Linked DNA regions of Homo sapiens. The protein of the gene in region 1 interacts with the protein of each later gene in a biochemical or structural test. Each region holds a gene or a part of one and is shown in the gene's direction. Other genes may lie near its edges. The genes, in order: CARD11, ARHGEF26, CLDN1, SLCO1A2, SBF1, NRXN3 and AGMAT.

Region 1 (3,500 bases):
CAAGGAGACCCTGGGCGAGGGGGGTCATTCCCACCTCCAGACACGAGTGCTAGACTGCGTTCAGTTTGTGAAATTCACTGAGCTGCATGCTTAGAATGCTGTGTTTATGTTCTATTCCAATGCAAAGTTTGATGTTTTATTTATTTAGAGACTGGGGCTCGCTCTGTTGCCCAGCCTGGAGTGCAGGGCATGATCCCGGCTTACTGCAGCCGCGACTTCTAGGCTGAAGCAACTCTCCCGCCTCTGCCTCCCGAGTAGCTGGGACTACAGTTACTCACCACCATGCCCAGCTAATGATTTTCTAATTTTTTTAGAGATAGGGTCTTGTTATATTGCCCAGGCTGGTCTCGAACTCCTAGCGTCAAGCAATCCTCCCACCTCCCAAAGTGCTGGGATTGCTGGCATGAGCCACCATGCCAACATTTGGTGGAATTTTTTTTTAAGTGATGCCTTCAGCAAAGCAGAAATTGCCCTTTCTCAAAATGATGAGCTCATGGTTGAGAACCTTGCAGATACTCCTGGGACCTGCCAGCCTCGCCGCCTCACCCTTCATGTGTTCCCTACCCTCTTACTTGAAGGCTGGCTAGGGTAGCAGGTGTTTTGGGGTGTGTGTGTGTGTGCGTGTGTGTGTATGTGTGTGTGTGTGTGTTTGAGACAGTGTCTCACTCTGTCACCCAGGCTGGAATGCAGTGGCACCATCTCGGCTCACCGCAACCTCCACCTCCCGGGTTCAAGTGATTCTCCTGCCTCAGCCTCCCGAGTAGCTGGGATTACAGGCGTGGGCCACCGCACCCAGCTAATTTTTATACTTTTAGTAGAGACAGGGTTTTGCCGTGTTGGCCAGGCTGGTCTCGAACTCCTGACCCCAAGTGATCGGCCCGCCTGGGCCTCCCAAAGTGCTGGGATTACAGGCGTGAGCCACCACGCCCGGCTGGTAGCAGGTGTTTCATTCAAACTCATTCACGCCACCTGGTTCACCCCGTCCGGGGCCTCATCTCTGCCCATGAACATCACTGTGGTCAGCAGAGTCCTGGAGTGTCCAGACTCATGTGGGGGTCTCATCTCCTGGATCAGCGGCAGGTGGCTTTCAGGGCTCCCGCCCCGCTATAGACCCCAACCCTGCATCCAGGCCCCGCTGCAGGCACCTTCACAGGAGCGGGAGGTGGGTGGGCTGCTGCTGACCAAAGCCGCTGTGCCCGCAGAACAAGCACTGCCTGCTGGAGGCTGGGATCGGCTGCACAAGAGACTTGATCAAGTCCAACATCTACCCCATCGTGCTCTTCATCCGGGTGTGTGAGAAGAACATCAAGAGGTTCAGGTAGGGCTCCCAGACCCCTAAGGGCTGTCCCCTCCTGTCCCTAGCACCCCACCAAGCCTCCATGGATCGCAGGAGGCCTGTGTGCCCCCACCTCATGCACCCCTTTTGTAAACCCTCACCAAGTACGGGACTGACCTTGCAGAGCTGATGCCAAGGACAGCGGCCGAGATGGTGACTCACATATGGGGCGCATCCCAGGGGACAAGAGCTGGGAGGGACGGGGCGGAGTGCCCATCACCCAGGGTGGTCCGGGAAGGCCTGGGGTATCCATCAGCGAGACCCATGGCAGTGAGGGGGGCCTAGGAGATGAGAAAGAAGACGCAATCTGGGCAGCAGGGGAACAGCTGGTGCTCAGACCCTGAGACAGATGTTTGGGCGGAATGGTGAGGGACGGAGGGGTGAGGGGCGGAGTGGTGAGGGACAGAGGGGTGAGAGGCTGAGGAGTGAGGGGCGGAGGGTGAGGGACGGAGAGTGAGAGGCTGAGGGGTGAGGGGCGCAGGGGTGAGAGGCAGAGGGTGAGGGGTGGAGGGGTGAGGGGCGCAGGGGTGAGGGGCGGAGGGGTGAGAGGCTGGGGAGTGAGGGGCAGAGGGTGAGGGACAGAGGGGTGAGAGGCTGAGGAGTGAGGGGCGGAGGGTGAGGGACGGAGAGTGAGAGGCTGAGGGGTGAGGGGCAGCGGGTCCAGGCCATGCAGGGCCACGGGAGGCTGCGACATCTTGTTCTGGGTGCATCTGGAGGCCACTGAAGGTGGCATGGTCCACTTTAGGGTATAAACGCACCTCTCACCTCTGGACACGGGCAGGGTGGCGGTGTGGGCCGGGCTTCTGTCTGAGAGGCGATGAGAGGCAGTCTGACTCCGAATCCGTGTTCAGGGTCGAGCCTGCAGGATTCGGGAAAGGGTTCACTCTGGGGTTCCAGAGAACCAGAGGCTGGGCGCGGTGGCTCACGCCTATAATCCCCACACTTTGGGAGGCCAAGGTGGGCACATCAGCTGAAGTTGGTAGTTTGAGACCAGCTTGGCCAACATGGTGAAACCCCATCTCTACTAAAAATACAAAAAAAATTAGCTGGGCGTGGTGGCGGGCACCTGTAGTCCCAGCTACTCAGGAGGCAGAAGCAGGAGAATCGCTTGAACGTGGGAGGGGCAGGTTGCAGTGAGCTGAGATCGAGCCACTGCACTCCAGCCTGGGCGACAGAGTGAGACTCCATCTCAGAAAAAAAAAAACAAAAAAAAAAAAACGAAAGGACGGCGCTGAGGTTTGGGGCCTGGGTGATGAGGACAGACTGGCCCTTAAGTGGCTTCATCTCGGATCCCCGCCCCTCCTCGCACGCACCTGCAAAATAAATGTCCTGCCACCATTTTGCAGAGGGAATCACAGACTGAGAGTTTAGGCCCATTCATTCCTTTTCACCAGATACTCACTGAGCCATTGTGAAGGGTTAGGCTCTGGGGAACGCAGCAGTGAGCAAAAGAGACGGGCATCCCCCTCGATACCTCACACCCGTTAGGCTGGCCAGGACCAAAAGGACAGAAACTGACAAGTGTTGACGAGGAGGGTAGACGTCGGAACCCGGTGCACAGCTGCTGGAAATGCAAAAGAGAGCGGCCACTGTGGAGGACAGCATGGCGATGCCCCCAAAAATTAAAAATAGAATACTATATAATCCAGCAACCCCACCTGCGGGCATATCCCCAAGAGAATTGAGAGCAGGGTCTGTAAGAGACATATACACGCCCGTGTTCACAGCAGCGTTACTCCCAATAGCCAAAACGTAGACGTCACCTAAGGGTCGGTCTGTGGGGAGTGAATACACACAATAGGGCCCATCCATACAGGCTAGGAAGGTGGCAAGAGCTGAAAACCTTGCAAACTGTTAACAAAAAAAGAGTTGAAACAAAGAAACAATAATACATTTAATGCATGAGAAATACTAGCATGGTACATACCCCCTTCCCTGATCTGTCCTGCCTGGGAATGTGTTTATGGTGCAGTGTGTATCACAACAAAAATACTGTATGGAGTATTTTTTTTTTTTTGAGACGGAGTCTCACTCTGTCACCCAGGCTGAAGTGCAGTGGCACGATCTCGGCTCACTGCAGCCTCCACCTCCCAGGTTCAAGAGATTCTCCTACCTCAGCCTCCCGAGTAGCTGGGATTACAGGTGCCCACCACCATGCCTGGCT
Region 2 (3,500 bases), on another chromosome or scaffold:
TTGATGAGCAGCTGGTAAACTTGGAGCACATATAAGACAATCAAAGGAAGTCTCCATATAAACTTCTCCATGCAAGGAAAGATGGTTTTTCCATTTGCCCTTTTCTGAGCACTTTAACTTCCTCATTACATGTTCCAAATTGTTTCAGAGACTATATAAACCATATGTTTGTTAAACGATAGAGACAAACATGGGGAAGTCTGATTAGCATCAGCTTCCCTCAGGAAGGGGGTTTCTTTCCCAACCCTGTTTAGCCTGCTCCATACTTATTGGACATGGGGTAAATAAGCAGAGATGGGAAACGGGCTTTAAACAGCTGCACCTGGCTATAGAGTTTCTGCTCCTCTTTCTACTGAAGCACTACTGTTAAATGGAATTGTTTCTTTTTATAGTAGATTTCCTAAAAGAGCAGTAAGGAAGGTGTAAAGACCTACATTATTTATTGCATAATGCAGAAGTTTACTGGCCTAGACGAAGTAATGATATTGGATATTGGGTGATAGTAAATTACTTTAAAAACAAACAAAAAGGCCAACATGTTTCCTGCATTTTGTTTTGGACCCAGAAGTCCAGTGGGCCAAGTTCCTTGTTCAGGCATATTCAATGACACAACTATGCAGATGTGTGGAAATAAACACTTGAGGTGAAATCATATAGCTGTGATTAGGGCAGCCACAGTTTATCATTCAAACTGGACATTTGAGAGGACTACAGGCATAAACTGAGCCCAGCAGCCATCCTGGGTCTTAATCAGTGGCATTGTAGTTGTCATTGCTTAAGAGAACAATTAATAAACATTTTAAAAAAGTATCTACTTCTGTCTTTATCCCCCAAAGACAAGAAATTAAAGCATTTATGACTGAAAATTGAAAAAGAAGCTGGCTGGGTGTGGTGGATCAGGCCTGTAATCCCAGCACTTTGGGAGGCCGATTACTTGAGGTCAAGAGTTCCAGACCAGCATGGCCAACATGGTGAAACCCTGTCTCTACTAAAAATACAAAAATTAACCAGGCATGGTGGTGCATGCCTGTAATCCCAGCTACACGGGAGGCTGAGGCAGGAGAATCACTTAAACCTGGCAGGCGGAGGTTGCAGTGAGCTGAGAGTGCACCACTGCACTCCAGCCTGGGTGACAGAGTGAGACTCCGTCACACACACACACACACACACACACACACACACACTTAACTAGTTTATTCATATTAGCTTATATTCATTTTCTGTGAACCCTTGGTTTTGAATTCTATTGGGATGACTTGATAGGTGAAACCACTTTATGTTGACAACATTTTCGAATTTGAGTCATCTCAAATGATGACTTTATAGCATATTCATTTCTTTGACTTTTATTTCTTTGGAAATACCTACAACGCCTACACACATGTCATTGTTTAGGGCCTTACCCCATGTTCACAATATTAGGTTGCTTCCATTTCTCTTTCTGAAGCAGAATTGTTTTTAAACAGAAACAGGTGCCTTTGACTAACAGGTTTTTTAACTTGTAAATTGGACCAAAAGAGTAATCATAAGGGGCAGAGAGAAAATAGTAACAAAGAAGCCTCAGTTCATCCTCTTTTTCTCTTGTTTTTGATGCTGTTGTTGTTGAGGTTTTGTTATGTTTGCTGTTTTATCCTGGTTTTGGTTTTTATCCTGAGTCCTATGCTGTTCAATGCATGTCTGATATAGTATCTATACAACATGATAAACTTGTTCTGTGTTGCTAAAAATTGACTGCTTTGTTTCTAGTAAACATAGTCTTTTAAAAAATGACCGTATTTGTTTGTAAAGCGTATTATTCACCTTCCTCTTTTTATAAACATCATGTCTACTTTGATAAGTCTCATTTTGGATGTGAGAAATATTTGACATATCCAAGTGTGGGTGTGCTGGTCTGTAGGCAGTCTCAGGAGAACTTTGGAGATAATCGTGCCACACAATCTTTTAATTAATACAGATTACTATCCTAGGAACAATTAGGCTTGATCAGAAGGCAATATTTTGCTTTTATAGATAACTGCATTTGCTGTTTTTTGAGGGCAGAATCTATCAAACCAAATTTTAGAAAAGATTATAAAGTTTTTCAAGGAGCATGACAAAAGAGTGGTTGACAGGTAGATGTCCATTCTGAGGAAAATAAATTCCAGGAAATCTTGAGCAAAGTGGCCTGTTCTGAAATTCCTCCTAGTGTACTGGACTAGGCACAAGGAGTTTTCTTTTCTCTAAGCTCCCCTGACATCATTCATTTGCATTTATTATTAAATGAGGTAATTATTCGATATTCCTAGCGTATATTAGAATTTATTGCATATTCATCCACTTATGTGACAGTTATTTATTGAGCACTCTCATGTTCACTCGCAAGGGTGCAGGTGCAGAGTAGAGGAAAAGCTGTATGTCACCAGGTTCGGGATTTGCCAGGCAAATACAATCAAGGAGATGAATGTGTATGCAAGATGTGATTTAACTGGGTACCAAGAAATGCAAGCTAGCTAATTTAATATGCATGAACAAGAGGACATGAGGGAATTAAGGGGGGGAGGCGGAAGGTTGTAGAGTCAATGGGTTGTAAGAACTGGTGAGTTAAATAATGGTTGGTGTTGAGGATTAGAGGAGGTGAGTTGGAAAGAAAGGCCATGCTGGTTAGAGAGTGGTATGTTTGACACTGGGATTACAGAGAGTTTGTAGTTGATGGTAATGACAAGGACTAAGGTATAACCATGGATTTGTGGCTGAAGTAGGGCAGAAAACAAGATCATCGGAGGAGAGTAAAGTCGGGGAATTGAGGGTACAGGGTAATGGAAAGATCCTTTACAGGAGACTTCAAGAAAGAAGTAGTGTTGGGGACTTGATGTAAATGACCGAGAGAGAGAGGGAGAGAGAGAGAGAGAGAGAGAGAGAGAGAGAGAGAGAGTGTGTGTGTGTGTGTGTGTGTGTGTGTGTGTGTGTGTGTGTATGAAGAAGTATTGTTGGAGAGAGACAGAGAGCCAGCAGTGAAACTCAAGGGAGAGGATCGGAAACGATCCAGGGGTCTATAGATGACTGTAGTTATGAGTTAGAGACTGATGCCATGAGCTTCAAAGCTGATGATGTTTCAGGAGGAGGAAGTGATCATTGTATAGAAGCAGGAATAAAAAGCAAGCAGGCAGAGAGCTCTCAGGAGACGCCTTGTTCTCTAGGGAGAGCCAGGTTTCTTTTAAGGCAAGAATGTGAAGGGAGGGTTCAGAGACGAGGCCAAGTATTTAGAAGACTTTACTAGTTTCTTAAATGAGGGAATTGCATTCCCAGAGGGTACAGTGGAAGGGGTTCAGGAACCAGCTGAGGAGTGGAAAAAAGTGGGGCCAGATTGGGCATGTTCACAGTGCGATGGGAATGGGAGTGCAGGAGAAAGAAGGATATTGGGGTTCCTGAGCCTAAGCAGGAATGGAGGGCATAATGAGATTAGTCCTGGTGGTTTGTGAAACAGGTGGTGAGGCTCTGAGTGTGGGACACAAGGATGGGTT
Region 3 (4,108 bases), on another chromosome or scaffold:
GAAATGAAGGTGGTGGGGCTTGGCCTTTCTTCCCATTCCCACCTTGAGAATTTGCACCTTTCCTTCTCTGTCACCAACTAGCAGTTGCCATGGTATATAAGGGTATATCTTATTTTATCCTTAATATGTTTATTTCTGCTTCCAAGATGCTTCTGTTTTTACTAAAACCATAGAAGCTTCCCCTCCCACCACACTCGCACCACACACAAAAAGCAGTTGGAAAAACATTTCAATGATTCCTAACCACAACAGCACTTCTGACTAACTACAAAGAAGGAAGCTTTGGAGAAACATAGAGGGAAACTACAGTCCCAGCGAGACCGAAACCGGAGGGGTGAGATAGCCAGTCACAGTAAAAGCTGGAACCAGAGCCCAGACTTCCTCAACTCCAGCCCAGTCCTTTTGCCACTGGGGAAACGCTGTTTACATGTCCTCACCTGCGACGAACAACATTTGATAACTCACAAAATTAACACCTTTCAGGGAGAGCGGGGCACTGGCCAGGTCCCTCTGATAATGAATTGCTGCTCTAAGACATAACTGCTGTGGGGAGGAGGTTGGTGTTTGGCGGGGAAGGGCTGCTAGCCTGCAGTTTCATAAGGACAATAATACATCAAAAAGGACAATCATAGATCAAAGGGGATATTTTGGGTCAACTTGATATGTAGTGGAAAGCAGATTGGGAGGGGAGCCAAGTACTGGATATGCTCCGTGCGTGAGTGTGTCTGTGTGTGTGTGTGTGTGTGTGTGTAAATCATGTTGCTCTCTGGGTCTGTTTCCCAATCTGTAGAGTGTAAAAGTCTCTGAGGCTCCTTGCAGAGACAAGTGATGGAACGACCTTGACAGAAGAGAGCAGAGAGAGGAAAGAAGGGGGAGGAAGCCAAGCAAAGGAGAGAGAAATGGTGTGATGGGGGAGGAGACGCGGAGTTGGGTAGAAATGCCTTTTAATAAGATATTGGGAAAAAAGTATTAAACCTAAAACTGCAGCTCTTGAAGGATCATTTTTTCATCTTTGTGTTAGGATTTACAAGTACAGTGCATAGTAATTTTTGGATAATTGGAGTGAATGAATGAAAAGCGTGAAACGCCTTACAGGAGCGAGAAGATCCACGAGAGAAAGCGAGCAGGGACGCAGCTCTGGTGCCTGGTCCTGCCGGGTGGTCCCCACGCCGCCAGCCGCGCGTTCCCCAACCGGGCGCTCCCGGCGCCCTCTCGGTGAGCCGCCCTGAAACCGCCAGGGGGCGCTCCCCGGCTGCCGGGGCTGAGGCGGGCGGAGCTGCTTTAAATCGCGGCGCCCAGCGGTTCTGCGTCTCAGTTCCCGAGCCTGGGAGCAACCGCAGCTTCTAGTATCCAGACTCCAGCGCCGCCCCGGGCGCGGACCCCAACCCCGACCCAGAGCTTCTCCAGCGGCGGCGCAGCGAGCAGGGCTCCCCGCCTTAACTTCCTCCGCGGGGCCCAGCCACCTTCGGGAGTCCGGGTTGCCCACCTGCAAACTCTCCGCCTTCTGCACCTGCCACCCCTGAGCCAGCGCGGGCGCCCGAGCGAGTCATGGCCAACGCGGGGCTGCAGCTGTTGGGCTTCATTCTCGCCTTCCTGGGATGGATCGGCGCCATCGTCAGCACTGCCCTGCCCCAGTGGAGGATTTACTCCTATGCCGGCGACAACATCGTGACCGCCCAGGCCATGTACGAGGGGCTGTGGATGTCCTGCGTGTCGCAGAGCACCGGGCAGATCCAGTGCAAAGTCTTTGACTCCTTGCTGAATCTGAGCAGTGAGTGCACCCCCACCTCACAGCGGCCGTCCAGAGGCCCCAGTCCCCCTGCAGCTCCCTTATGGGCTCATTCTGTTGTGTGATTCCATGGTTATCAGTCTTCAGTTGATCAAGTCTTCTGATCATGTGCTCTGTCATAAGGAAATGAAGAGAATCCTGGTTTGAGGAAAGCGACGCCCAGGCATAAGCTCTAGTTTTGCCTCTAACTCCCTGGGTGACACTTCTGCCACTCTAGGTGTGGCTTCATCCTAAATTCCTATGCTGGTGGTTCGAGTTGAGGGAGTGAAGGCCAAACTTGAACTTGAGCTCTTAGACCTCTCCTAGGCATTCCGAGATTTGGGGTAAATTGAGGATTGGTAGAGTTCAGACAAGAAAATGGGATGACTGAAAAAGTTTGAAGCCTGGTAACTTCTCAAGTGTGCACGCTTAAATAAATAATCCTCAAGTATTAGATATAACTTTTTAACCTTTAATATGATTTTTTCATAGTAAAAGTTACATTCCTACTGGAAATGTCCTATCTAAGTGTCTTCTGCTTATGCTTGAGGTTGATTCTTTTAATTTATAAGATCCAGTTAGTGCAGGGAGGCCCCTTGCAAGACTCTTTGGAGAAGCTGCTTGAGATTCCCCCGAAGTTTTAATTTTCAGACCCAAGGTCTTCTGTAGAGGCTGACGGTGTAGTGCTATCTTGGAAAGAGAAGGTTGGTGGCAGGTGGGGAAAGGCTGACAAGAAAGGTTCTAAATAACCTGCGCAACATAATACAAAGAAAAAAGTAAAGGCACTGAAGGGAAATGCAGCAAAATAGTCATAGCTGATGAAATCAGAGGTCAGCTGGGAGTGGAAGGCAGTGAGAGAGAAAGAAGAGGTGGGTCTTCCTTAGGTTTCCATCTTCCACAAAGAAATTTCTGTGTAATGGATGTTCAGTGACCCCCTGTAAAACTGGAAAGGATTGTATAGAGAGACATATTTCTAAGGATGGTGGGAAGAAGGATAATAGGATAATTGTTTTACTTTGTTTTTTAAATTAAAGGTTTCGAGTTCCTTGTCCGAAAAGTCATTAAATTCCCATTTACTTAGATAATAATGATTCACGGCTGGAGTATCTTCCTTGAGAAATCACATTAATTGTCTTATATCATGTGTCTGTTATGCCCTTTAACTCACTTGAAGAAAAGATCCCTTAGTCTTTGCCTAGATGAACGTGACTGCCCACTGGCCCCCATTGCATGCTAAGGGTGAAAAGTGTTGGCATTGTTCAAGTTTACTTAACTTGTTTTGTCTACCTCCTATCAAGGGACAACTTTTAATAGTGTATATCAAAAGCCATATAGTTTAGAGTTATTAAACCTGTTCCAAATCTGTTTGAACACCTTGAATACCTGTGGCATTTGCTCAGTCAATGTGCATGGTTGTTTTGAGTGTTATTATTTCAGCTTTTGAAGGTTCTCATATCAGGACTTCTTTACACCAAAACCAATCCATAAGTTTAGTAATTATGTGTTGCTCATTGCCCTCAGGGGTTATATTTGTACTTATAAAATGAAAAATTTGGTAATAATTATTGAATTTCTCCATGGAAAGATAAATATATTTAAGGAAACGGTGTCAGGCATTTTAGGTACCACGTTAAGGAATTGGCAGGTGGAGGTTTCTAAGGACAATTCCAGAGAGGTCTCACTGTCAGTTTTATTCCTCTGATCAAAATAGTTCCTTTTCAACATCTTTAAATAGGTTTTCTTTTAACTTCCTGAAATGACCAAATGAAATCAGATTGATCTATGTTGTAAATACTCAAATGGATCATCCTTACACATGATAATGTGTTAAAATGTTTTACTTTCATTTTTTGGTTAATGTAGTTATTACAGTTTTTAAAACTAGGGTGAAAGGACTAAATACCTACCCCCCCACACACACTTTAGAGATGTCTTCCTATTTTTTTAAAACTCCAGATCAGAATCCACTTTTATTTTACTTAAAGCCATAGTTTATCCAAGGTGTGGCTTAGGCCTTTCTCTCAAAACCCATTCTCAGAAGAGGGACCCTTGACTCACAGGTGTTCTCCTCTCACCTGCCGTGACTCACGGGATGCTTTTGGATAGAACCCAGGAAACCTTACTTCATTTCTCTGCCTGAGCAGTGGTGTTTACGCCCACCAGCTGTAGAGATCTGGGATGGTGATTCATTGGCTGGTTTTGGTACAGTTTTGTTACATGTAGAGATGAAAAGGGTTATGTGTGTATATTTAAGCAGTATCACTCAGAAAAAAGCTGCATTTCATTAAGTGTGTTTAGGTGAAAAGCTTAGCTGTGGGTTTCCCGAAATTGTACCTTGCC
Region 4 (3,961 bases), on another chromosome or scaffold:
CCTGTGAATTTTTTCACCACTTACATACCAAGCAAATTGCATTTCCTTCTACACTGTCTGGTTCTATTCCAATGTGTTTTATTTAAAAGTTTTATCTTTCCCAATGAAAGTTTAAGTTCCTTGGAATCTGGGTCCAAGTATCTTCCACAGAAACATACTTCTCTCGCTAGTTTATACTCTCTGTAGGCACGTACTTGGCTTTCTTGCTCACTGCTGAATGCTGGTGCGTAGCACCATGACTGGCACAGAGTAGATGTTCAATAAGTATTTGTTGTATCTGTGAGAGAATGTGTTAAAATAACAAAACTCAAACATAATAGTGCAGCGACTATGCCTTGATGTGTGTGTGTTTGGGATTCAGCACATTTGTAGAGGTAAAGCAGTTGGTTTTTTAAAAAATTAGTGCCATTCAGGATCACTTGTTAAATGGATATTGTTTAAAGGACTTAATTAATTAATGCTGGGGATACTGTTAAGAAATCATTCTAGAAACTAGAATAAATATTGCCAAAGTGAAACACTTTGGTTTTGATACAAATTATTGCCTTAGTTTCAAGATGTAAAACAAACAAAATCTTTGATGGGATTAGTAGAATTTATTTGAGTTTAATTCAACTTTTTGTTTTACATATAAAAATGTGTGCCTGTATGTTATACATCTGTACATATATTTCCACATATATCTATACCTATTACGTATAGCTACATATAGATACCCATTTATATGTTTAATCTCCTAAGTCTTACATCTTAGTTTGCAATCGTGGGATTATTTTCCAGATCATAGAATTGTTTGTTATTTTTACTAGGTTGTTTTCATGATTAAAATTCCGTGTCTCCCCAGGTTTCCATGTATCAGCAGTGCCCCAGAAAGTGTTTCCCTTCCTGAGACTCTAGGGAAGCCTTGGAATGCAAATAACTTGAAAAGAGAGCCTGGCCAAAAAAAGATTTTTGAGCCTTGGTAGGGTTAGTGAAGCAGGTTTTTAGTACAAACACAACTCAAAGTATGTGTGTTATTAAAAGTAGCTATTTTCATGGAAGTCTTTTGGTACTATTTGTTTTGGCTAGAGAAGTGAAAAGCTTTCTTTTAACCATGTGACCATTATTTTGCAAGATCATAACAAACAATTCTAATATCTTTAATCTCACTAAAGAGTCACTAAAGTTATTTGATGTACCTTTTGAAATAGAAAACCAACAACTAAATCTTCTCTAACACCATGATTTTCTAATCTGTATTAAAGCGTTCCAGGTATTTTTGTAATGCAATGGATTTCAATTATGTTGTTCATTTTCAGCACTTACTTCAAAAGAATGATGCTTTACAATTTTGTAGTTAATTTAACATATTTTTTTGTTTGCTTGAAAGGGTAGAAGTAAGACATATCAAGATTTAAAACATAAATAGCTTGGAACACCCTGAAGAGCAACATGGGAGAAACTGAGAAAAGAATTGAAACCCATAGAATAAGATGTCTTTCCAAGTTGAAGGTATGGAATTTTTGTATGTGGATATATGTGCATGTACACTAGTTTTTAAAATACGACAGTCCTGGTAAAATTGCTCCTATCTGCATGAAGTGATCTAATATTAATGCCATATTGCCTGTTCTATTGATAATTTCTTGCTTTAAAGAAGTTGGTTTTATAACTGAGGGTGTGTCTACACAGGATTATTGATTCAGGCAAGTTAGTCCTAAATGGCTTTGAGAGACTTAAATGGAAGACAGGATCCTAAAAATTTCCAGGCACACATACTGTGGCAGGATTTATTTTTCTGGATCAAAGGCCATGCTCACTCTTGCAGGGTTTCTAACCCAGAGAAATGTGGGAGTCACTCTCCGAAAATGGCTCATTGCACAGAAATGCTTTGTTGATTTGTATGCAATTACCCAGCAAAACAAATGTTTTCTTTAAGCTTTGGCAACATAACAATAATTTCCTGTAAGAAAAATGGCCATTTTGTCAGCTGTTCTGATTTTTTTTTCTATTTCAGAGAAAATTCTGTTTTCTAGCTTCAAAGTCATTTATATTCAAACAAATTTGAATTTATGATAAACCAAGGGATCTGGACATTTGTCCTGATTCTATAGCTAGTGCCTGCAAGTGGTTTCAAAACTAAGACACTGTCACTCATTTTCTCCCTATCAGAAGTTTGTTTTCCATTTATATGTGTGTTGGGGAAATTTAAACATGTATACAAAATTGGAGAATTATGATATAAATCTAAAAAAAATAGACTTGCCTGAAATGGTATGTTAATTAAGAAAAACTTTTTGTGCTTCAGTTTTCTCATCTGAAAAGGGTAATAGCAACATTCCCACCTTATAGGATTCTTTTATGTTTGAAACAATGACTGGAATATTGTAAACTTTCAATAAATATTAGCTATTAATATTAAAAGCATTTGTGGAGAAAAGTCAAGTGGTATTTATAAACAAGAGGTCTTTAATTTTTGATTGCTTTGGAGTTTAGCAAGGTTAGATATTAATGTGGATGTTAAGACAAAATGCTGTAAGCACAAGTTTATCAGGTAAAAGTGAGAGGCAATTGCTTAATAGCAAGTTAGGTTTCTCTGTTTCTCTGAACTTAGAAATATACTCATTAAGCAAAATTCATTAGGAAGCATGAAAGAACTATTTTTAACAAATTTGCTTTAAACTTTGTTGTTGAAATAAGTTGAAAGGGCATTATTGCTAGAAGCTAGTAGGACCAGCTTTATAAATACAGAGATTATTTAGCACTAGACATGAGTCAGAATAGCCACTGATTTCTTTCACTCTGCGAATAAAACCAAACTAGTTAGGCAACCCATGTGTTTTAGGGGAAAAGCAATGAGGTCATGATCCATCTAATTTCTTTTCTTAACATGTAAAGTAGAATAAATTATTTTTCCAAATTTGATTTGTACTTGATTTAGTAGGACTTGCTTTTAAATATAAAATCTGATTTATAAAACTAGGTGAAAATAGTTTGCTCTTAAGAATACACTCTGAGAAGGTTTATAGTGGGAAGAGAGAATATCCACAAATGGTATTCAATATAAAAAATAGCTAGAGATATGGCCATACTATGCTGTAGTCAATCAGTTTTGATTCATATTAAGAATGCTATTCAAATTTCTAGGTCCTTTTCACATAAATTTCTATTTAGGTCTCACAAAAATAATTGATAAATTTTGGCTTAGATGTATTGTGTGGTGTGAATGTGTCCCATCCAAATTCCCATGTTGAAATCCTAATTTCTAAGGTGATGGCAGTAGGAAGTGGGGCCTTCGAGAGGTGATTAGGTCACAAAGGTAAAGCCTTTATGAATGGGTTCAGTGGCTTTATAATAGAGGACTAAGAGAGATTCACTGCATTTTCTGCCATGTGAAGACACAGTGAGAAAGATGGTAGTTTATGAATCAGTATATACAGCCTCTAAGCCACAAATAAAATTCAACCCTCCCACCCCCTGCTCCCAGCACTGAATGGACCTCCTCTTGGTCAAGAGCCTTCCAAAGTTAGTCTAAAAAACAAGTTTAGGCTGTTATGGGAAGGAGGTGTTGGACATGCCTCTTTATACCCTCCTCTCTTTTGGAATTCAGGAATAACCAACCATCATTAACATCAACACAGACCTTAAGTCTGATAAGAAACATTTATATCCATTCTCTATGAAGCCTGCGTATCTAGAGGCTTTATCTGCATGATAAAACCTTGGTCTCCACAAGCCCTGATTGTAAACAGGAAATAATTTTTTATTATTGATAATAACTCTTCCAACCAATTGCCAATCAGAACATTTTAAAATCTACCTGTGACCTGCAAGTTCCTGCTTTGAGTTATCTTGACCTTCCCAATTGAACCAATGTAAATCTTACATGTATTGATTGATGCATTATGTCTTCCTAAAATATATAAGAGCAAGCTGTACTCCACCTTGAACACATGTTTTTAGGACTTCTCTGAGGCTATAC
Region 5 (3,268 bases), on another chromosome or scaffold:
TTTAACGCTTTTTATTGTAGAGATTCCCCATCTGATAAACCATTATGTCCATCTTTTCTTTTAAATCTTGAAACATAACTTAAAAATATATATAAAGATGGGGTCTTGCCATGTTGCCCAAGCTGTTCTCACACTCCTTGGGTCAAGCGATTCTCCCTCCTCGGCCTCCCGAAGTGCTGGGCTTACAGGCGGGAGCCACTGTGCCCTGCCTGTGTTGTCTTTCTTTAAGCTTAGAGTCTTGGGTTTTATTCTCGCAGGTAGGTAATGAGCTTGTGCGTCAGCTTGGTCTGTTTGAAGCTTGTTTCTAAGCTTTGTTTGGGCAGCTCTCCAGCACCTCTAGAGAAGCTCCAGGGATAGAGCAGCCCAAGGCGTGTGGCCTCTCCAGGGCTTCAGTTGGAGTTTTGTGTCTTTGTGTCTTCGGTAAGGTCTTGCCACACTGGCTTTTTGGAAGTCCAGTATCTTTTAGCATTCCTCTAGAATTTGGGTTCAGCTCATAGTTTTGTTTTTTTTTTTTTGAGGCAGAGTCTCACTTTGTCTCCCAGGCTGGAGTGCAGTGGCGCACTCTCGGCTCACTGCAGCCTCCACTTCCCATGTTCAAGCAATTCTCCTGCCTCAGCCTCCCGAGTAGCTGGGATTACAGGTGCCCGCCACCATGCCCAGCTAATTTTTGTATTTTTAGTAGAGACAGGGTTTTGCCATGTTTACCAGGCTGGTCTTGAACTCCTGACCTCAGGTTATCCACCCGCATTGGCCTCCCAAAGTGCTGGGATTACAGGTGTGAGCCACTGCTGCCGGCGTCAGGTCATAGCTTCTTAGTAGCTGTTCTCTGCCAGGCCTTGTGACATCTTGCTTTGCACATGGCAGCCTAATTTGGCCAACGACTCAAGGAGGGCTCTGTCTAGATTTCTAGAGCCCCTTTGCTGTGGTGCTCCCTCCCCTCTGTGGGCTGCCCTGCAGACCCAGCTGCACTAGCGCCCCTGGACGTCCCGTCTCTGCCTCCTCGGCTCAGCAAGCTCCCGTGTGTTGCTCTGGCCCTGCCTCCCTGCACTGTGGCTGGGCAGAAAACAGGTGACTGTGGGGCCCATCTTATGTGGTCCCATGTCTTAGGCTCCTGTCTCTCAAGCTGCACTGCTTGTCTGACATCTGGAAACAACGGCTTCCCCTTCTTGTCCAGTTTCATCATTTGCATATGGAGGGAGGGCTGTTCAGACTAATTATCTGTCATGGCTGGAAGTTGACAGTTGGCCTCGTGTTTCTCTTTTGAAGTCAGCCGTCAGTTTTATTGTTGCTCTTTCAAAGAGAGCATGTCTTTTTTTCTTCTGGCAGGTTTTGGGACTTTTCTCTTTGTTTTTCAGCAGTTTTTCTGTCCCATTTTGGGGTGTGTGTGTGTGTGTGTGTGTGTGTGTGTGTTTGTGTGTTTTGAGACAGAATCTCACTTTGCCGCCCAGGCTGGAGGGCAGTGGTGTGATCTCGGCTCACTGCAACTTCCGCCCCCTGAGTTTAAGTGATTCTCCTGCCTCAGCTTCCTGAGTAGTTGGGATTACTGGTGCCTGCCACTGCGTCCGGCTAATTTTTGTATTTTTAGTAGAGTTGGGGTTTCACCATCTTGGCCAGGCTGGTCTTGAACTCCTGACCTCGTGATCCACCCGCCTCGGCCACCCAAAGTGCTGGGATTACAGGCGTGAGCCACCGCGCCTGGCCCTAAAATCACTCTCTTGAATTTACTGTATGTTCTAACTCCTGTTTCATTTCAGGGTCTATTTTAATGTTTTTCTCCATTTTTCTGCTGTTCTTTTATTGTAAGCTGGACATTGTGGACCCTGCAGTGTTGAAGATCAGTATTGTGTGGTCTTTTTTTTTTTTGAGAAGCAGTTTTGCTCTTGTTGCCCATGCTGGTGTGCAGTGGCGCGTTCTCGGCTCACCGCAACCTCCGCCTCCCAGGTTCAAGCGATTCTCCTACAGGCGTGCGCCACCATGCTGGGCTAACTTTTTGTATTTTTAGTAGAGATGCGGTTTCTCCATGTTTGTCAGGCTGGTCTCAAACTCCTGACCTCAGGTGATCGGCCTCCCAAAGTGCTGGGATTACAGGCGTGAGCCACCACGCCTGGCCGGGGTGTGTGTTTTTAACTTACCCTGTTGGGGTCTGTAGTGCTTCTTGATTATGTTGTTTGATGCCTCTGGTTAGTTTGGGAAATTTTTCAACTGTTGTCTCCGAATATTCATTTTGCATATTCCTTCCCTCCCTCTTGCCACCTCCCCCTGTGGCCAGTCACACACGCGTTAGGCCTTTCCGTTGTGTCTCTTTCCTGTGTTTTCCTTTTGTCTTTTCGTGCTCTAGTCTGGATATTTCCTTTTGAATAAACTTGCCATTAATTCTTCCCCCAGGAGCTGCAGAGGCTGGAGACAGAGTTGGGCCAACCCGCTGAGCGCTGGAAGGACACCTGGGACCGGGTGAAGGCTGCACAGCGCCTCGAGGGCCGGCCAGACGGCCGTGTGAGTGAGGGCCAGTGTGAGCGTCCACGGTGGGCGTGTTGCTGGGAGAAAGTGGAGTCTGTCCAGCCCTGACCCAAGTCCCAACCTCCTGTTCCCAGGGCACCCCTAGCTCCCTCCTTGTGTCCACCGCACCCCACCACCGTCGCTCGCTGGGTGTGTACCTGCAGGAGGGGCCCGTGGGCTCCACCCTGAGCCTCAGCCTGGACAGCGACCAGAGTAGTGGCTCAACCACATCCGGCTCCCGTCAGGCTGCCCGCCGCAGCACCAGCACCCTGTACAGCCAGTTCCAGACAGCAGAGAGTGAGAACAGGTATGAGGGCACCTCCCACTGCCACATGGACACCTCTGAGCTGGTGTTCTGGGGTCCCAGGCAGTCCTCTGGTGGGAGATTGCGGGTGCTTTTGAGGAGCTTGCTTAAGTATACACCACCACTGGGAGGGGTTTGGGGTGTCGAACTGGTGACCACAGCTGACCACAGCCTGCAGTGGCTGAGGGAGGAGTAGAGAGAGGGCAGTGGTGGGGCCCCCGTGAGTCTGGAGTCTGGCAGGATCCATCCCAGGCAGCTGCTGCCGTGGCTGCTTCTACAGATCTACCTGCCTGGCCATCCCTCTCCTCGTAAGGGCGCCTGCCCTGTGTAGGGGGCTGCTTTCCCAAGACCCTGAGGCTCTGGTGTGGGGATGCTCCCTGGAGTCTGGAGGGTGTGAGGCGCCCTTCACTGTCTCCTTTCTGGGCGTCGTCTTCTTGGGCCTGCAGCCCCCCATCAAAGGCTTCTTTG
Region 6 (3,500 bases), on another chromosome or scaffold:
ACTGAGATACAGAAATCCATCGGCACCAGCTTTGGGGGCATGGAGAGGCAGCGGAGAGATGGGGGACGGGTTGTCAGTCTTGGATGAACAGTGGAGCGGTCGGGTTGGCGTCTGGGCATTGTGTGTGCTTGTGTCTCTGTGTGTGTGTGAAATTTTTTCATCCCACCACCAATCTCCCCCTCCATCCTCCCCCAATTCTGCCATGATCTTGCCTTCTATTTCCACACACTGCTCCCCCCACCCTAGGCGCACCCCCCCTTCCTCCAGCCCTTTCCATCTTCATGAAAAAAATTCTGATTTTGATGGCTCTGCGGCTCTTTTTTCCCTTTTTCCTTGCTTTTTTTTTTTTTTTGCAACACAACAGTCGTGCGATGGCCTTTCCTACATGCCACACGGATGCAGCCTTCTGATAGGAGGGCAAAGTCGGCACATCCACACACACACTGGCATACGCTCTTGCACACACAGTCTCTGTCACATACACAGGCGCCAAGGGCTTCATTTTGCTTGGTTTCATTCCCCTTAACCTCTTTCCCCACTCTACCTCCACCATGGCTCCTTCCCCCCATCTTTGCATGGGGACTGCGGTCACGTTAGAGCCTCTTTTCCTCTCCGCAACCGCGGTCTTCTTTCTTCTCGCCATTATTCTTTCCCTAAAGCTGTCGTGTGTCGCAGTTCATGGGATTAGCATGTTGGAGAGTCTTTGTGGGAGGGGACCTCACAAGCAGGGGATTGGAATGGGGGTAGATAACATTAATAATTTTTTTTGACCAAATAAGCACCCAGTGATAATGATCCAATTTAACCATCCATGAAATATATGTTTGCGGTACATTGGAGGAAGGTTATGTGGGGGAGGCAGAGTCTGACGGGGTTACCTCCGGGGAGATTTGATGCCTGGACAGTAGAGCCACAGCCCCCTCCCCCATACACATGTGTACACTCTCTCACACACACCAACACGCACAGCTCTGATCAGTGGGCTGTGTCGAACCAGAGGGCACTGCAGAATATCCCAGAGAGTTGTGATGGTTAGTTGGGAGGATGGAACAATGTCTTTGTCCGACCCAGTTCTCCTCTCTACAGATGATTCTGGGTCTTGAAATTCTTGGTGGCCTTTGTGTTGGTTTACGGGTGGGGACTGGAAGGGTGTTTGTGTTTTGTCAAGCACCAGCGTGCCTCCAATTGGACAACATAGGATTGTCAACACTGTGCGTGTGGTTCAAGCAGGAGGCTGCCTGCCTCTTTGTGTGGTGTGGCTGTGTTTGTTGGATATGTGCGTATCCAGCCTCATACGGTGGCTCTGGACAGGTGTGGTAGTGACGGGGAAGGAAGGCAAGAAGCAGGGATGGTCAGTGGGGAAGAGTCCTCAAGGTAGTTGAGAGGAGGGTAGAGGGGAAGAAACTGCTCCTGCCTCCAGCAGGAAGCCTCAAATGAGATCCCCACGTCCACCAAGCGAACCCGTGGGTGGGTGGCTCATGGATGACTGGTGGGCGGATACAGATTGAAGGGGGAGAAGGGGATGAGGTGGGTGAAATTGAGGGTTTTCCCTGCTGCCTTGACAGAGCCTGGGGCTGAGCTCGGGAGGGTGGTCTTGCTCCCCTGGCATCAGCCACCTCTTGGGCGGCTCGGCCTTGTTGGAGGCTGCAGCCTGAAGGAGCTGAAATCACCCTCGGCCGTGAGAGCAGCCCAGCCCCTGTTTTCTCCTGGGCTCTGGCTGCCTTAACTACCGGACGCCATTTTCCCATCTTCAGCTGAAGGTGTGTCTCTCTTTATTAGTAATTATAAGTGAAATTGGAAAACATTTTGCCTAAAAGAAAAAAATCACAAAATCCTCAGAGCAAAATGCTGATGGTCTTACCTTTCTAGCATCCCTCTCCCTTCTTGGGGCTGACCCTGAGGAGTTAGGGAGACAGGGTTACGTCATTGCCAGAGAAAGGGGATAAATGGGGAGTAGGATGCCTTGGGGGTAAATTATTGTGCCCAATGCAGAGAAGAGATTGTTCTTGGTATCCCCCGGCCGTGTTCTCCTTACATGACCCCTCAGGTGTGGATAGGAGACTTGCAAAAGAAGAAGCATTCCTTCTAAAACCTCACTGCCTAGAAATGTGCTGGCCCGTGGTCGGCTGTGGTCTGGGACCTGCTGTGGTCCGGTTCCTGCTGTGGTCCGGTTCCTGCTGTGGTCCGGGACCTGCTGGGGGAAGAACTGTTGCGCTGCAGCTCTGAGCCTTGAGGGCCAGCTCTGTTGCTCTGAGGATGAAGCAAGTGCGGTGCTGTGGCTGGGCCAGCCACAGGTGGCCATGCTGGGCTCGGGGCAGGTTGGCCATGCTGAGCTCGGGGCAGGGACTATGGATGGGGCCCACTCCCAGCCCTTTCCTGCAGGTTGTTCCTCAAATTATACTCCTCAGAGAGACCTTTCCTGACCAGCTTTCTAAAATAGTCCCCTTACCCCAACCTCCTGGCTGCTTTCCAGCCCATGACACTGTCTTTAATTTTAATCGGTGAATCATTATTTAATATTATATTATACGATGATATATTGAAACATTTAAGATGGATCTCGTCTCTTTACCCCTCTAGAATGCAAGCTCTGAGAGGTCAAGGACTTTGTGTTCATTGTGGTGTTCCTAGTGCGTAGGACATTTCCTGACACGTAGTAGGTGCTCAACAAATGTTTGTCGATTGGAGGAAAGAACCACATGGGTTTAGTGTTGGAGTTTTCTTCTCTAGCACTTGTGGCCTGTCTTCTGGGAAGGGTGGACTTTGCCTCTGGTTGTCTTAGCCCTGCCTGAATGTCTAGATCTGCTGGAGGAATTGCAACATGCTCAACTTCAGTAGTTTAGTAGAAAGGGCTTCTCTATCCCTGGCTCAGATGACTCTGCCTCCTTTGAGATCCCTCTAATATTAGTAATCACCATTCTCATCATCATCATAGTAGTGGTAGTAATAGTCGTGATATAGCTATCATTTCTGCAGTAGTTACTATTTACAAAGTTCTCTTCCAAGTTTTTTTTTTTTTTTTTTTAACACTCGGTATCTCATTTAATTCTCCAAACAACTCAATGCAGTATACTATTATTACCTGAGGAGACTGAGACTTAAAGTTACCTAATAAAATGACAGATCGAGGATTTGAATTCAGATCTGTCTCATGCCAGAGCCCAAGCATGGGACCCTTATGTTATAGTGTTAGAGGAAAAAGGGAGATGAATCATCTGTCATCTTATTCAGTGCCCTCAAGTACAAATGACAAGATGGAGGCCCAGAGAGACTACATGGCTTTTCCAAAGTTATGCACCACGTTTGATGCAGAGACAAAACTAGAATCAAGGTTTCCTGGCTGCCAGGGTAGGGCTCTTTCTACTCCATCATGCTGCCTGGTGGGCTGTGGGCCCTTTTCCAAGGGTATTGCAGCTGCTGCTGTGGGGGCTGCCTGGGGTGCCTTCTTAGTTCTCTTTCTTCAGAGGGGAGTGAGGTCTTGGTGGGGCAGGTGGGTGGTA
Region 7 (4,142 bases), on another chromosome or scaffold:
GATCCGCCCACCTCGGCCTCCCAAAGTGCTGGGATTACAGGTGTGAGCCACCGCGCCTGGCCTAATGTGCAACCTTTGTGTAGAGGTTGCAACGTAAATGCAAATGTGAGCCTTTTCCATTCAATCTCAACATTTAGAGATCAGAAAAAATAATATATATAATACTGCTAAATGGCTCACATAATTCCATTACAAATCACTTCTTTCTTTCCACGTGTGTTTTTCTTTCCCCTTAGAAATAAAGAGGATGTAACAGGTTCTCTGGCACTGTGACCTTCCTTACAGCTTGCCTGTAAGTCCTTTATTTATTTATTTATTTATTTATTTATTTATTTATTTATTTTTGAGACGGAGTCTTGCTCTGTTGCCCAGGCTGGAGTGCAGTGGCCTGATCTCAGCTCACTGCAAGCTCCGCCTCCCGGGTTCATGCCATTCTCCTGCCTCAGCCTCCCAAGTAGCTGGGACTACAGGCACCTGCCACCATGCCCGGCTAAATTTTTGTACTTTTAGTAGAGATGGGGTTTCACCGTGTTAGCCAGGATGGTCTCGATCTCCTGACCTCGTGATCCGCCCGCCTCAGCCTCCCAAAGTGCTGGGATTACAGGCGTGAGCCACCGCCCCTGGCCTCTAGTCCTTTTTTAACAAGGTTATTTAAAAAGACTTTACTGGCCAGGCGCGATGGCTCACGCTTGTAGTCCCAACTACTCGGGAGGCTGAGGTGAGACGATTGCTTGAGCCCAGCAGTTTGAGGCTGCAGTGAGCTATGATTGTGCCACTGCACTCCAGCCTGAGCAACACAGCAAGACCCTGTCTCAAAATAACTAGCTAGCTAGCTAAGTAGCTAACTAACTTTACTGCTTCTTGAGATTCCTATCCCTGGACATTTAAAAATACATTATTTAAAAAAATGCATTTCCTATTTTTCTGGCTTAGAGAAAGATCATTTTCCTTCATATCTTTCTGGCTTTAAAAATATTACTCTGGGGTGGCTGCTGTGGCTCACACCTGTAATCCCAGCACTTTGGGAGGCCAAGGTGGGAGAATCACTTGAGTCCAGAAGTTGGAGACCAGTCTGGGCAACACAGTGAGACCGTCTCTATAAAAACAAACAATTACTCTGAATGGGAGAAGAGGCTGCTGAAGGCCACAGTGGGGAGCAGGGCGCAGACACCCCTGGCACAGTGCCGGCCAGTGGGCACCCCCAGCCTGACTCTATTTGCCAGAGGCTGAAGTCCAGAGGGGTTGAGGGGAGAGCACGGCAGGTCCTGGGGCCCCTCCCCCGCCTTGATCCTAGGGCGCCCCTGACCTTTGAGCCGGCTCGGGTTCCGGCTCTGGCGCGTGCACACTCGCCTCGCCGTTCGGGACCAGCCAGATCGCGGCGGCCTCGCGGGCGGTTTGGTCGGTGAGGTCTTGGCCGCGCGCGGCAATGCTGAGGCTGCTGGCGTCCGGGTGCGCCCGGGGCCCGGGGCCCGGCGTGGGCGCGCGTCCTGCCGCAGGGCTCTTTCATCCGGGGCGCCGCCAGAGCCGCCAGGCTTCCGACGCGCCCCGGAACCAGCCCCCCAGCCCCGAGTTCGTGGCCCGGCCGGTGGGCGTCTGCTCCATGATGCGCCTGCCGGTGCAGACCTCCCCCGAGGGGCTGGACGCTGCCTTCATCGGGGTGCCCCTGGATACTGGGACCTCCAACCGGCCTGGGGCGAGGTAAGGCCGGAAGGACGGGGGCCGGGTACACGTGGAGGGACTGCTTGCTGGCTGTCGGGCATGGAAAGCACCGAGACAGGCGCCCCTGCTGGCCCCGGGTCGAGTTGGAAGCTGGTGGCCGGCTCCAAAATGCCCCTTATGGTTTGAGATGGTTGATTTACCTGGACCCTCAATAAGCAAACCCCAGGGCTCAACATGGGCGTGGCCTCCCACATCTTAGTGTCATCATTGGTCAAGAAGGGATTTTGGCCGGCCCGGTGGCTCATGCCTGTAATCCCAGCACTTTGGGAGGCTGAGGCGGGCGGATCACGAGGTCAGGAGTTCGAGACCATCCTGACCAACATGGTGAAACTCTGTCTCTACAAAGGTACAAAAAAAAGAAAAAAAAAGCCGGGCATGGTGGCGCGGGCCTGTAATCCCAGCTACTCGGGAGGCTGAGGCAGGAGAATCGCTTGAACCCGGGAGACGGAGGTTGCAGTGAGCTGAGATTGCGCCACTGCGCTCCAGCCTGGGCAACAGAGTGAGACTCCGTCTCAAAAAAAGAAAAAAGAAGGGATTCTGGAGCCTGAACCTTCTCTGTGTCCCCATCCTGGGGCCTTGCTGGGATGGCTGCTGTGGATTCCTCCCCTCTCCTCTCCCCAGCTTACAGTGGCAGGTGACATTGCATTTGAGAGCAGAAACTGGCTGCCCCTTCCCCAAATCTGAAGATGTCACCTGACTCAAGAAATGCTCAAATGAAGGCAATTTTCCTAGGATCAAGTCGGAGGAAGCAAAATTCATCTTCCTAGTTATTGAACGTCAGCAATTTCTGATTCAGCTCAGCAACACTATATCTGACCGTACTGATCTGAATTATGAAAGCCAGCACTTATTAAATGTCTCCTAAGTGCAAGGTGCTTTGCATAGATTACCTCATTTAATTTTTACTACAGTGCAAGGTAAATATTTTACAAATTAGGAAACTGAGACTCAGGTAGATCATGAAATTCACTAATGCCATTTAGTACACTTATTTAGTCTCTTCGATACATAGCCTAGATCGGTGATTCTCAAGTGGGGCGGTTTTGCACTCCGGGGACATTTGGCAGTATCTGGAGGCGTTTTGGGTTGTTACACCTTGGAGGAAGGGTGCTACTGGCACCTAGTGAGTACAGGCCGGGATGCTGCTAAGCATTCCATTATGCAATGCCGCGACACGGAATCATCTGGCCCCAAATTGCTGAGGCTGAGAAGCCCTGGCCTAAGCAAAGCCTGAAATCTCTGCAGATGATGGCTGACAGGATGATTCTTCCTTCTGCAGATTCGGACCTCGCCGCATCCGGGAAGAATCAGTGATGCTTGGGACAGTCAATCCTAGCACGGGGGCCCTCCCCTTCCAGTCCCTCATGGTTGCAGACCTAGGCGATGTGAATGTCAATCTTTACAACCTTCAGGACAGCTGCCGGCGAATTCAAGAGGCCTATGAGAAAATTGTAGCAGCTGGCTGTATTCCTCTGACCTTGGGTAATGTCAGTCTGCAAGAGCCAGAGTAGTTCCCTGCACTCAGGGTTTACTTATCCTGTACTCAGGGGCTTGAGTACAGCTACTTCTCCCCTGCAAGCCACTGCAAATGTGCAGACAGTAGGAAAGAGAGCATTGTAATTCATTTATTTTAATCCCTGGGGAGAGAATATTTCACGTGTGTGTGTATGTGTGTGTGTGAGACAGTCTCACTCTGTTACCCAGACTGGAGTGCAGTGGTGCAATCTCGGCACATTGCAACCTCCACTTCCTGGGTTCAAGCAATTCTCCTGCCTCAGCCTCCCAAGTAGCTGGGATTACAGGCGCCCACCACCATGCCTGGCTAATTTTTGTATTTTTGGTAGAGTCGGGGTTTTGCCATGTTGGCCAGGCTGGTCTTGAACTCCTGACCTCAAGTGATCCGCCCACCTTGGCCTCCCAAAGTGCTGGGGTTACAGGCATGAGCCACCGCGCCTGGCCAAGATGATGTTTCTAATGACTTTATTTGCGAGGAGAACTGCAAAGAGGGTGTTTTTGTCCTGCTCAGGGTCTACATCAACCTATAGGGCAGCTTTCCCCTTATCCTCACCCCTGACCCACTCTCACTTTTTCTCTTGTTCACAAATACTTAAAATGACAGGGATCTTTTCCTAAATATCCAAATTCATTTTTGCCAAGTTAGAGAGCCTAGCCTGCATGGCATAGTGGGAGGAGTGTGGTTTCCCGATGGCATGGTTTGAAGTCTCAGCTGCACTTCTCCCTAGCAATGTTGCTGTATACCGTGCTTGATGCTTCACACCCTCACCTGTAAGATGGGAATGATCACAGTAACACCTACTCACTGCATGATGTGAGGGGCATATAATGAAAGTGCACATGAAATGCCCAGCATCAAGCATGGCATATCTTTTTTTTTTTTCTTTTTTTTTGAGACAGAATTTCAC

Evidence for each region.
Region 2: the proteins of CARD11 (region 1) and ARHGEF26 interact in a test that uses a peptide from one of them, tested with the Homo sapiens proteins (one large-scale study listed by IntAct).
Region 3: the proteins of CARD11 (region 1) and CLDN1 interact in a test that uses a peptide from one of them, tested with the Homo sapiens proteins (one large-scale study listed by IntAct).
Region 4: the proteins of CARD11 (region 1) and SLCO1A2 interact in a test that uses a peptide from one of them, tested with the Homo sapiens proteins (one large-scale study listed by IntAct).
Region 5: the proteins of CARD11 (region 1) and SBF1 interact in a test that uses a peptide from one of them, tested with the Homo sapiens proteins (one large-scale study listed by IntAct).
Region 6: the proteins of CARD11 (region 1) and NRXN3 interact in a test that uses a peptide from one of them, tested with the Homo sapiens proteins (one large-scale study listed by IntAct).
Region 7: the proteins of CARD11 (region 1) and AGMAT interact in a test that uses a peptide from one of them, tested with the Homo sapiens proteins (one large-scale study listed by IntAct).

Annotation. Positions count from the first base shown.
Region 1 is NC_000007.14:2,907,868-2,911,367, reverse strand, and holds part of CARD11 (caspase recruitment domain-containing protein 11), read left to right. Parts: intron 1-1,202; coding exon 1,203-1,318; intron 1,319-3,500. UniProt on the Homo sapiens protein: Adapter protein that plays a key role in adaptive immune response by transducing the activation of NF-kappa-B downstream of T-cell receptor (TCR) and B-cell receptor (BCR) engagement.
Region 2 is NC_000003.12:154,236,390-154,239,889, forward strand, and holds part of ARHGEF26 (rho guanine nucleotide exchange factor 26), read left to right. Parts: intron 1-3,500. UniProt on the Homo sapiens protein: Activates RhoG GTPase by promoting the exchange of GDP by GTP. Required for the formation of membrane ruffles during macropinocytosis. Required for the formation of cup-like structures during trans-endothelial migration of leukocytes.
Region 3 is NC_000003.12:190,319,647-190,323,754, reverse strand, and holds the start of CLDN1 (claudin-1), read left to right. Parts: upstream 1-1,308; 5' UTR 1,309-1,548; coding exon 1,549-1,771; intron 1,772-4,108.
Region 4 is NC_000012.12:21,332,118-21,336,078, reverse strand, and holds the start of SLCO1A2 (solute carrier organic anion transporter family member 1A2), read left to right. Parts: upstream 1-1,161; 5' UTR 1,162-1,252; exon of another isoform or gene 1,253-1,369; 5' UTR 1,370-1,431; coding exon 1,432-1,491; intron 1,492-3,961. UniProt on the Homo sapiens protein: Na(+)-independent transporter that mediates the cellular uptake of a broad range of organic anions such as the endogenous bile salts cholate and deoxycholate, either in their unconjugated or conjugated forms (taurocholate and glycocholate), at the plasmam membrane.
Region 5 is NC_000022.11:50,447,768-50,451,035, reverse strand, and holds part of SBF1 (myotubularin-related protein 5), read left to right. Parts: intron 1-2,385; coding exon 2,386-2,493; intron 2,494-2,591; coding exon 2,592-2,803; intron 2,804-3,268. UniProt on the Homo sapiens protein: Acts as an adapter for the phosphatase MTMR2 to regulate MTMR2 catalytic activity and subcellular location. Promotes the exchange of GDP to GTP, converting inactive GDP-bound Rab proteins into their active GTP-bound form.
Region 6 is NC_000014.9:78,173,373-78,176,872, forward strand, and holds part of NRXN3 (neurexin 3), read left to right. Parts: intron 1-3,500. UniProt on the Homo sapiens protein: Neuronal cell surface protein that may be involved in cell recognition and cell adhesion. May mediate intracellular signaling. Functions as part of a trans-synaptic complex by binding to cerebellins and postsynaptic GRID1.
Region 7 is NC_000001.11:15,582,252-15,586,393, reverse strand, and holds the start of AGMAT (guanidino acid hydrolase, mitochondrial precursor), read left to right. Parts: upstream 1-1,342; 5' UTR 1,343-1,426; coding exon 1,427-1,698; intron 1,699-2,998; coding exon 2,999-3,201; intron 3,202-4,142. UniProt on the Homo sapiens protein: Hydrolyzes linear guanidino acids to form urea and the corresponding amines. Displays specificity for substrates having a negatively charged head group and short chains including taurocyamine, guanidino propanoic and butanoic acids.